2 linked regions of the Homo sapiens genome follow. The protein of the gene in region 2 interacts with the protein of the main gene of each other region in a pairwise test. Each region holds a gene or a part of one and is shown on either strand. Other genes may lie near its edges. The genes, in order: RPS6KA6 and ADIRF.

The links.
Region 1: the proteins of ADIRF (region 2) and RPS6KA6 interact in a two-hybrid assay, tested with the Homo sapiens proteins (one large-scale study listed by BioGRID and IntAct).

What each region holds. Positions count from the first base shown.
Region 1 is NC_000023.11:84,059,038-84,062,853, forward strand, and holds part of RPS6KA6 (ribosomal protein S6 kinase alpha-6), read right to left. Parts: 3' UTR 1-3,816. UniProt on the Homo sapiens protein: Constitutively active serine/threonine-protein kinase that exhibits growth-factor-independent kinase activity and that may participate in p53/TP53-dependent cell growth arrest signaling and play an inhibitory role during embryogenesis.
Region 2 is NC_000010.11:86,966,666-86,970,581, forward strand, and holds the start of ADIRF (adipogenesis regulatory factor), read left to right. Parts: upstream 1-1,816; 5' UTR 1,817-1,879; coding exon 1,880-1,940; intron 1,941-2,376; exon of another isoform or gene 2,377-3,534; coding exon 3,535-3,597; exon of another isoform or gene 3,598-3,810; coding exon 3,811-3,916. UniProt on the Homo sapiens protein: Plays a role in fat cell development; promotes adipogenic differentiation and stimulates transcription initiation of master adipogenesis factors like PPARG and CEBPA at early stages of preadipocyte differentiation.

The sequences.
Region 1 (3,816 bases), on a different chromosome or scaffold from region 2:
ATTCTAACTTACAAACCATGCTGGAATTTGGATATTTAAGGTTTAATGTGTAACTTTTTAAATGGCTGTTTCTTTTCTTTTTTTTTTTTTTTTTTTTTTTTTTTTTTTGTGAGACGGAGTTTCGCTCTTGTTGCCCAGGCTGGAGTGAAATTGGCACAATCTCGGCTCACCGCAACCTCTGCCTCCCAGGTTCAAGTGATTCTCCTGTCTCAGCCTCCTGAGTAGCTGGGATTACAGGCATGCGCCACCACACCTGGCTAACTTTGTATTTTTAGTAGAGACGGGTTTCTCCATGTTGGTCAGGCTGGTCTCGAATTCCTGACCTCAGGTGATCCACCGCCTCGGCCTCCCAAAGTGCTGGGATTACAGGCATGAGCCACTGTGCCCGGCCGGCTGTTTCTTGATAGACTGCTTTCCTGCTGTTAAAAATAATTTTATCATACTAAAAAACAAAACACTACATATTTGTTATAAGCAGCAATTTCAGAGAGAATGAATTTGGAAAGAGAAAGAAAATGTGACCTGAGCAATATTAGTTCATAGGAAAGATAAAAGTAACCTAATCAGTCACATTTTGACAATTTTTTAATAAACGAATGCAGTTAGTACATTCTCTATAATTGTCCACGTAAAATTAAATGCTTAATACCTTTTGAAGAATAAATTATTAGTTCCCATAACTAGACAGTTGGAATTACAGCAAAACAGTCATCCACAGAAGCTCTATTGTCCAGCGTTTAGAAATGTGAATACAAAGCAAACCCTAACTTGGCAATTACATATATATATTTATTTATAAGCATTTAGCTAAAATTTATTTAGTGAATAATTGAAACATACATAATTTGCCAATATAATGTAAGCTTGGATTTCCATATTCTAAAACTTTTGTTTTTCTAAATATTTCAAAGAAACTTATGTCTATAATTTAATATATTCAAGTATAGTTCCCTTTTCTCTTATGTATTAGCAACCAAACTGAATTTTAGGTGATCAAGCATAACATTTTATTGAAAGTATATGATGGAATTCACTACACTGTAAGACTAAAACCAGGAACAGTGCATCCATGAGTATAATGTATGTTGTGAATAATCACTATCAATGCCACTATATTCCCACATAAAAAGGCAAATAGCCCACTATTGATTTATTCTGCTAATTTCAACAATCATTGATCTTGAGGTACATGCCAAAAATGCCTGAATAAGCTTTGAAATGTAAAACAAAAATGTTTTAAAGAAGTTTAATTGCAGTTGGCCAATATATACTTAATATGGCTTGCATTTTTTTTTTTTTTTTTTTGAAATAACATTGTGACTTAAAGGATTTCTAGGTCCTAAAATCTGGAAAAGGGATCTGGAAAAATTTGGACTCCATGAGTAGTTTGGATTCAATCTCTCTGTGCTTTTTTTTTTCTTTATAACAGGAATGGGATGGGGGGTGGGGGGAATAAAACTTCTTATGCTATATAGGTCATGTACTGTGAGAAACAAGAATACAAAACTATGGGTTTAAAAACAACATATACAGAAATAATCGCCAATCTCTGTCTACCTCCACATCATTTTGTCATAGAAGTTCATTGTGATTAAAAAGTTTAAAAGTTTTTAAGAGAAAAGGTAGATTGAGAAGTAGAAAGGAAGTAGGAAGGAAATTGTGCAAAAAAAGAAACAGTTTATTAGATACTCTGACCCTGGGACACACTGTTCCTTTCCCCCAAAATATTTTCCGTGATAGGAACTGAATTTAAAATTATCACCTTGTTAGATTGCCTGAAGATCCAGCAACTAAAAACTTGATTAATGCACAACTTCCTTAAAAAATGCCAATTAACTATTAGCCACTGACAGAAAAATGTAAATTAATTTAATAAGATAGCTTTCCTTTCACCTTTTTAGCTGGAAATGTCTGTTCTGATAGAATGGATATCCTGATTTGGGGAAGAGGAAGAGGAAGGAACAAGGAGTAAGGATCACACAGAATCCTTCTGGGGATAGGGTAAATTTCGTTGATGGAGTATTGCTGTGAGGTGCTCAAATAAGATAGATAGCATGAAGGGGCTGGAAAGCCAGGAGAAAGAGAATGTACAGAATACCACAAATATGCTTTGCCCACTTTAAAGCCTAAGTTTTCTTGTGGGCCTTAGGGCCAAGATAAATGGTTGTTTTCCTTCTTCATATATGAAAGACCTCTATCTAGAAAATACTAGTCAATCTGTATGGAAGTTTCTCTGGGCAGTACTATTTTAACATGTTGTTCCAATGGGCAGACATTATAAATACCAAGCATCTGTTCTTAAGGTTGTGGGTTGCCTAAACATATGGAATCCCTTTGAGCCAAACAGAGGTGCTATCAAAATTGTTTTATTATATTGAATTACCAATGACAATAAATTACAAAAAACACTGTTTTAGACATTGCTGAGTCTAACAAAATAGGCTGAAGTTTGATCTTTGTGAAAGGACTTGAAACCATTGTTTTTTCCCACAAAAATCCCCATCACCAGCACTGCATTCGAATTTTCTTGAAAATTGTTTCCTGAGTTTATTCATGGTAGTATGTGCTTAAGGACAACAGGTTGTTAGTCTATTTGAGCAAACCTGATGTTTTCTCTAAGAAAAACAAATTCAATATCCTCCCCCTTCAAGAACAATAAAACCCCAAACTGTGCTATCATTAAATACTACCAAAAACCATTAACTAGAAAAACACAATGCAAAATCATTATTCAAGAACCCATTAGAAACCACAGTATTCTAAAGTCTTATAGAAAAGATGTGTTTTTACTAGTTAAGCATTGATAGAAGTCCCATCAAAAAAATGTTCAATCCAAATCTGCATTTTTGGCTATGGAGTTCTAGCCAAACTGGACAGGATTAGGCATCCTTACCTGGGCTCCTTCTACAAAATGACAGTATGTTTTGAAGCTCTCCCATATAATAAGGTTGCCCCCTACTACTGTGGTTAAGCTAGCATATTTGAGTTTTTCACTAGAAAACTCTCAAACAATTATCGGGTACATCCAGTAGCATACCTGTATCTTTTATACACTGTCAGTCCTCACTGGGTGATCAGAAATCATGCTGTTCATTGCTTAATTCTTATAGTGTTCCTTTTATGATAGGACTGTATGGCATGACCTTTCTGAGCAAGCTAATTTAAAATTAATTAAGACTGTCTACTTTTTAAAGCCATTGATTATAGAAAACCTGAAAGTTATTTTGTAATCATTTTTCATTTTCTGATTTCACTTCCCCTAATTTTATTACTTAAAATGCATCCATGGAAATAGTATCTCTGTCCTGAAAACTTCAACACCAAAATCACACCTCTGAGTTTGACTTATCGATTCTGATAGGAAGGCATAACAGCACTAGATAATGACAGAAGGAAAATAAGTCAGAATATATGCTTACAAACTGTTACATGCAAGTACATATAGTAATAAAGCAAATGAGAAAAAAAGCCAAAATGGAACATAAAAAGCCATAAGACATGATACCTAACTACTTCTAAGTAATTATTTTTCATGTGGCATAAATTGTTATTTAATCTCTTTCAATTATTTCCAAAAGATACCTCAAAATAAGAATACATACTTTAATATATCACACCCAGGAAACAGATATTTGTGCATGGGGTATAGATTATTTACATTACAAACAGAATATGTATAGTTTCTTTTATTAAATACCAAAGTTACGAGTTTCCTAGCCTAAATTGTATAATTCAGCACTCAGTAATCAACTTTCTCTCTGAATAAAGCAAAATAAAATACATAGCAAATAGTACACCTAACACGCACAAGTAGTT
Region 2 (3,916 bases):
GAATATCTGAACCCAAGAGGTTTGACTGTAGTGCCTGCCGCTAGGGCCACGTGGAGCTCTCTCTACCACCATCTGCTGGGGGCTGGCTGTCTCTTCCCACAGAGGCTGCTCCCTTCCTGTCCAGCTCACAGCTCATTGCCCATGGGGCCTGGAGCCCAGTGGCACCACCAGCCTGTGATAAACTGGAACACTCGAAGGCCTGCCTGGCTATTGGGCACTACCGGTGGGATTTCAGGAGGGCTGGCAGGGCTGTGGCCAGCCAGGCAGGGCATGGCTGAGATGGGCTCCCCAGAGTCCCCAAGGCATCCATATGGCCGCTCCCAGGGCAAGGCCTCGCTCTGGGAGAGGAGGGGCGGGGGGCTGGGAGGACTGTTGCTGCCGCTTTGTTTTGCCTGAGACCTGCTCCCTCCCCCTTCCTCCACCTAATCTCATCACCTGCCTCTTCCCTTTGCCCAGGGTTGACCTCATCTCCATTAATCCATACCGTGTGTGTGTGTGTGTGTGTGTGTGTGTGTGTGTGTGTGTGTGTGTGTGTACAGGTGCACTTCCAAACAACTCCCTCTAGGGGCTGACCCCGCAGCACTAGAAGCAGGGTATGTGCCAGCAGACCAAGCCTGTGTGGCAGGGGCTTCCCAGCGCTCCAGAATAGGGGAGACACCAGCAGAGGTGCAAGAAACAGCCCCGGACAGGAAGCGGTAGAGAGACCCAGAAAGGCAGGGTGGGTGTGCACTGGCCTCCAGGTCCTGAAGGCCTACTCTGGAGTGGGAGTATACCCAGCTGGGTGGGGCCTGACCTACACCCCTTGTGTGCCAGGGGAATGTATCTTGCAAGCTGTTTTGCTGCACCCAAGGATGATCTTCTCCACTCAGGCCCAGGTCCCTAAGTCCCCTCCTAACAGCCACAAGTCATACTCTCTAGCGCCTTGCCTGCCCCATCTCAGGAAAGGTGACCTGAGAGGCCCAAGCTTATTCCTGCCCTCCCTGAGCCATGCTTCCTGCCCAACTTCCTAAGGCTTCGGTGACAGACGGCAATCTCCTTGCCTGGGCTGCACAGGCACACTGCCCTCTCCCCCTTGGGGTTGCATGGTCTGCAAGTGCACACACCTGTATCTCGCCCTCTCAGGGGAAAGATTTACCAGGCCCTCTCCGGCTGCATCCACTGGGTCTCTGGCTACAGGCAGAGAGCCAGTCAGCAGTGCCCCTGCAGCTGTTTGGGGCTGGGGGCTCCGATGATGCCAGAGCCCTAGGGTTTACAGGCACCTAGGCAGATTCGAGGATCCAAGTCCCTGCCACATGCGTTTGGGTGAGACCGACCTCACTGCCTCAGTTTCCTCCTATACACTGATGCTATCAACAAAAATACCCACTTCAGGAGGTGGTTGTAAAGATTATACAAGAGACTGCAGAGCGTTAGGCAGCACCTGGCACAAGACAAATGCTCAGTAAAAGACCACTGCTGTCATTAAGGTCAACACCAGCCCTGAGCTCCTGCCCTGGAGCTGACCCAGCGCTCACGCCCAGGATCAGAAAGGGAGGGCTGGGGCTGATGAGCTGGGAGGTGGTGTGCGCCCTTCTCCTGCCTCCAGCTCCTCTCTGGACCCCTGTCCTGGCACCTCTTCGGTCCCTGGTTCGGTCTGCCCCTTTCCCACCGCGGCCCGTCTTAGGCCAGGATGTGCTCCCTGCCCTGCGGACTCTGGAGCAGGGCCCGGCCACTCCCCGGAGCCTGTATGACGGGAACCGCCCCGCGCCCTCTCCCCTACGCGGGGCAGGCCAGCCCTGGGGCGCCTTAAAAACCGGAGCTGGCGCTTGGCATCGCCACTCTGGGCAGGATCCAACGTCGCTCCAGCTGCTCTTGACGACTCCACAGATACCCCGAAGCCATGGCAAGCAAGGGCTTGCAGGACCTGAAGCAACAGGTGGAGGGGACCGCCCAGGAAGCCGGTGAGGATAGCGCGCGACCTAGGGCTCAGGCAGGGGCACCTGCGTGGATGCGCAGGCAGAAGCAGCGGGTCGGCGCGGTCCGCAAGTTCCTGGACCGGCAGCTTGGCTCGGAAGGCTCGGTCCTCCACTGAGACGCAGGGGGCAGGCAGAACGCCCACCCCGGCGAGCAGACAGATGGTGCCCGCAGGGAGGCAGCGGAACAGAGGCTCCGGAGGAGCCGGAGCTGCGCTGCGGGCACTGCGGGAGCCCCTCCAAGGAGGCCATGCTGGCGCTGGGCGGCCCGCCCAGGCCCTCAGGAGAGGGTGAAGGTCCAGGACAGGGATCGGGCGCGGCCCGCCACCACTTAAACCCGCGCGCGCCACCAGAGGCTGCCCCAGACCTCAAAGGGCTTTGTTTCCATCCCACCCCCATCGCCGAAAAGTAATCGTCGCCTTACCTTTAAGTCCCCACCTGGCAAAGAAGGTCCTTAGTTCCTCCACCTCCAGCTCTCTCCTCCGTATTCTGGAGGTGACCCAGCTGCGGTGGGGGCGTGGGAGATGTCAGGAGACCACTGGGTTGGTTCTTCCTGCACCTAGCCCAGGCTTCGTTAGGACTCCAGCTCCCTGTCAGTCCTGCCCATATCCCAGTCAGGAGACAATATCCAAACCAACCCCTTACTTCACCAGTGCTCCAGGGGAGGCCCACAGTTCTTCCCTTGAGACTGAAATGCTACCAAGGAAGCCTCCGTGTCAGGTCCCTTCCTTCTGGGCTTCACTTTTCCATCTGAGAGCTGGGTGCAAAGGATGGGCTGCTTTCTGATGGGTTAATCGAGACGAGGTTCCCAGGGGCCTCTCAGCACACTTGCCTGACTAACCCTTTCCGGAGGATGGGATCTGGGTAAGGCAGGCCCTTTCCTGTTCAGCAGCAGGGATGAGTTACAGCTCTGTAGGCGGGAGCCACCTGTCAGCCCCCCCGGGGCTGGTGACTCCATTCCCAGCAGGCCGAAACTCTGGTCCAGAGGAGATAGTCCGGCCTTGGAAGTTTTGCCTCCTTCCTTCATTTGTCTCCTAATGTCTTAAGCTGCCTGTCCACAGAGGCACTGGCTTTGCTTGTGTGCCCCTCCGGGCAGGCCACAGGAGGGAGGAGGCAGTAAGGACCTGGCAAAACTGCAAGCCCCAGGGCTAAGTGCATGAAAGGTGGGAATTCAGGCATCTGGGCCAGGCTTCTAGGGGAGAAGCTGTAAAAGGGGGCAAGGGTCTTCTGCGCCATCACCAGCATTAGCCAACAGTCCAGATGCTAGCTGCAGCCTGGCCCTGCCCTGCCTTCCTTCCTCTGTCCAACATTTTCTCAGTAGCCCTGGAGATGGAAAGGGAAGCTCCTCCCCCACAGAGAAGGAGCTCAGAGTTAGAAATAAACAAAAACATCCCAGAGGCATGGAAAGGTCTCCTGCCCCTCGGGCTGGGGGGCCCTGGGCCAGGGACTTTATCTCCATGGCATCCATCCCTTGGACCTGTACCACCGAATACTCTGGAGGACACAGAGGCATGGCAATGGTGGGGCACCTGTAGTCGGTGGTGCCTCAACAGGGGCTAAAAGCCACATCTCTCTGTTCCAGTGTCAGCGGCCGGAGCGGCAGCTCAGCAAGTGGTGGACCAGGCCACAGAGGCGGGGCAGAAAGGTCTGGTGGGGCTGGAGGGAGGCGGGCAACCCCAGCACACCTCCCACTCCCCGCCCCATCCCGGCTGGGGCCCAGGCACATCCTCTCCTCTGCAGAGCCCTCTGTCCACAATGCCCCAAGCAGGTCCCCCGGGAGACCCAGGCCAGGCTAAGCCTACAGGCACTGTGGTTCCCGGGCCCTGCCTGACCTGCCCTCTCTCCCGCCCTTCCCCAGCCATGGACCAGCTGGCCAAGACCACCCAGGAAACCATCGACAAGACTGCTAACCAGGCCTCTGACACCTTCTCTGGGATTGGGAAAAAATTCGGCCTCCTGAAATG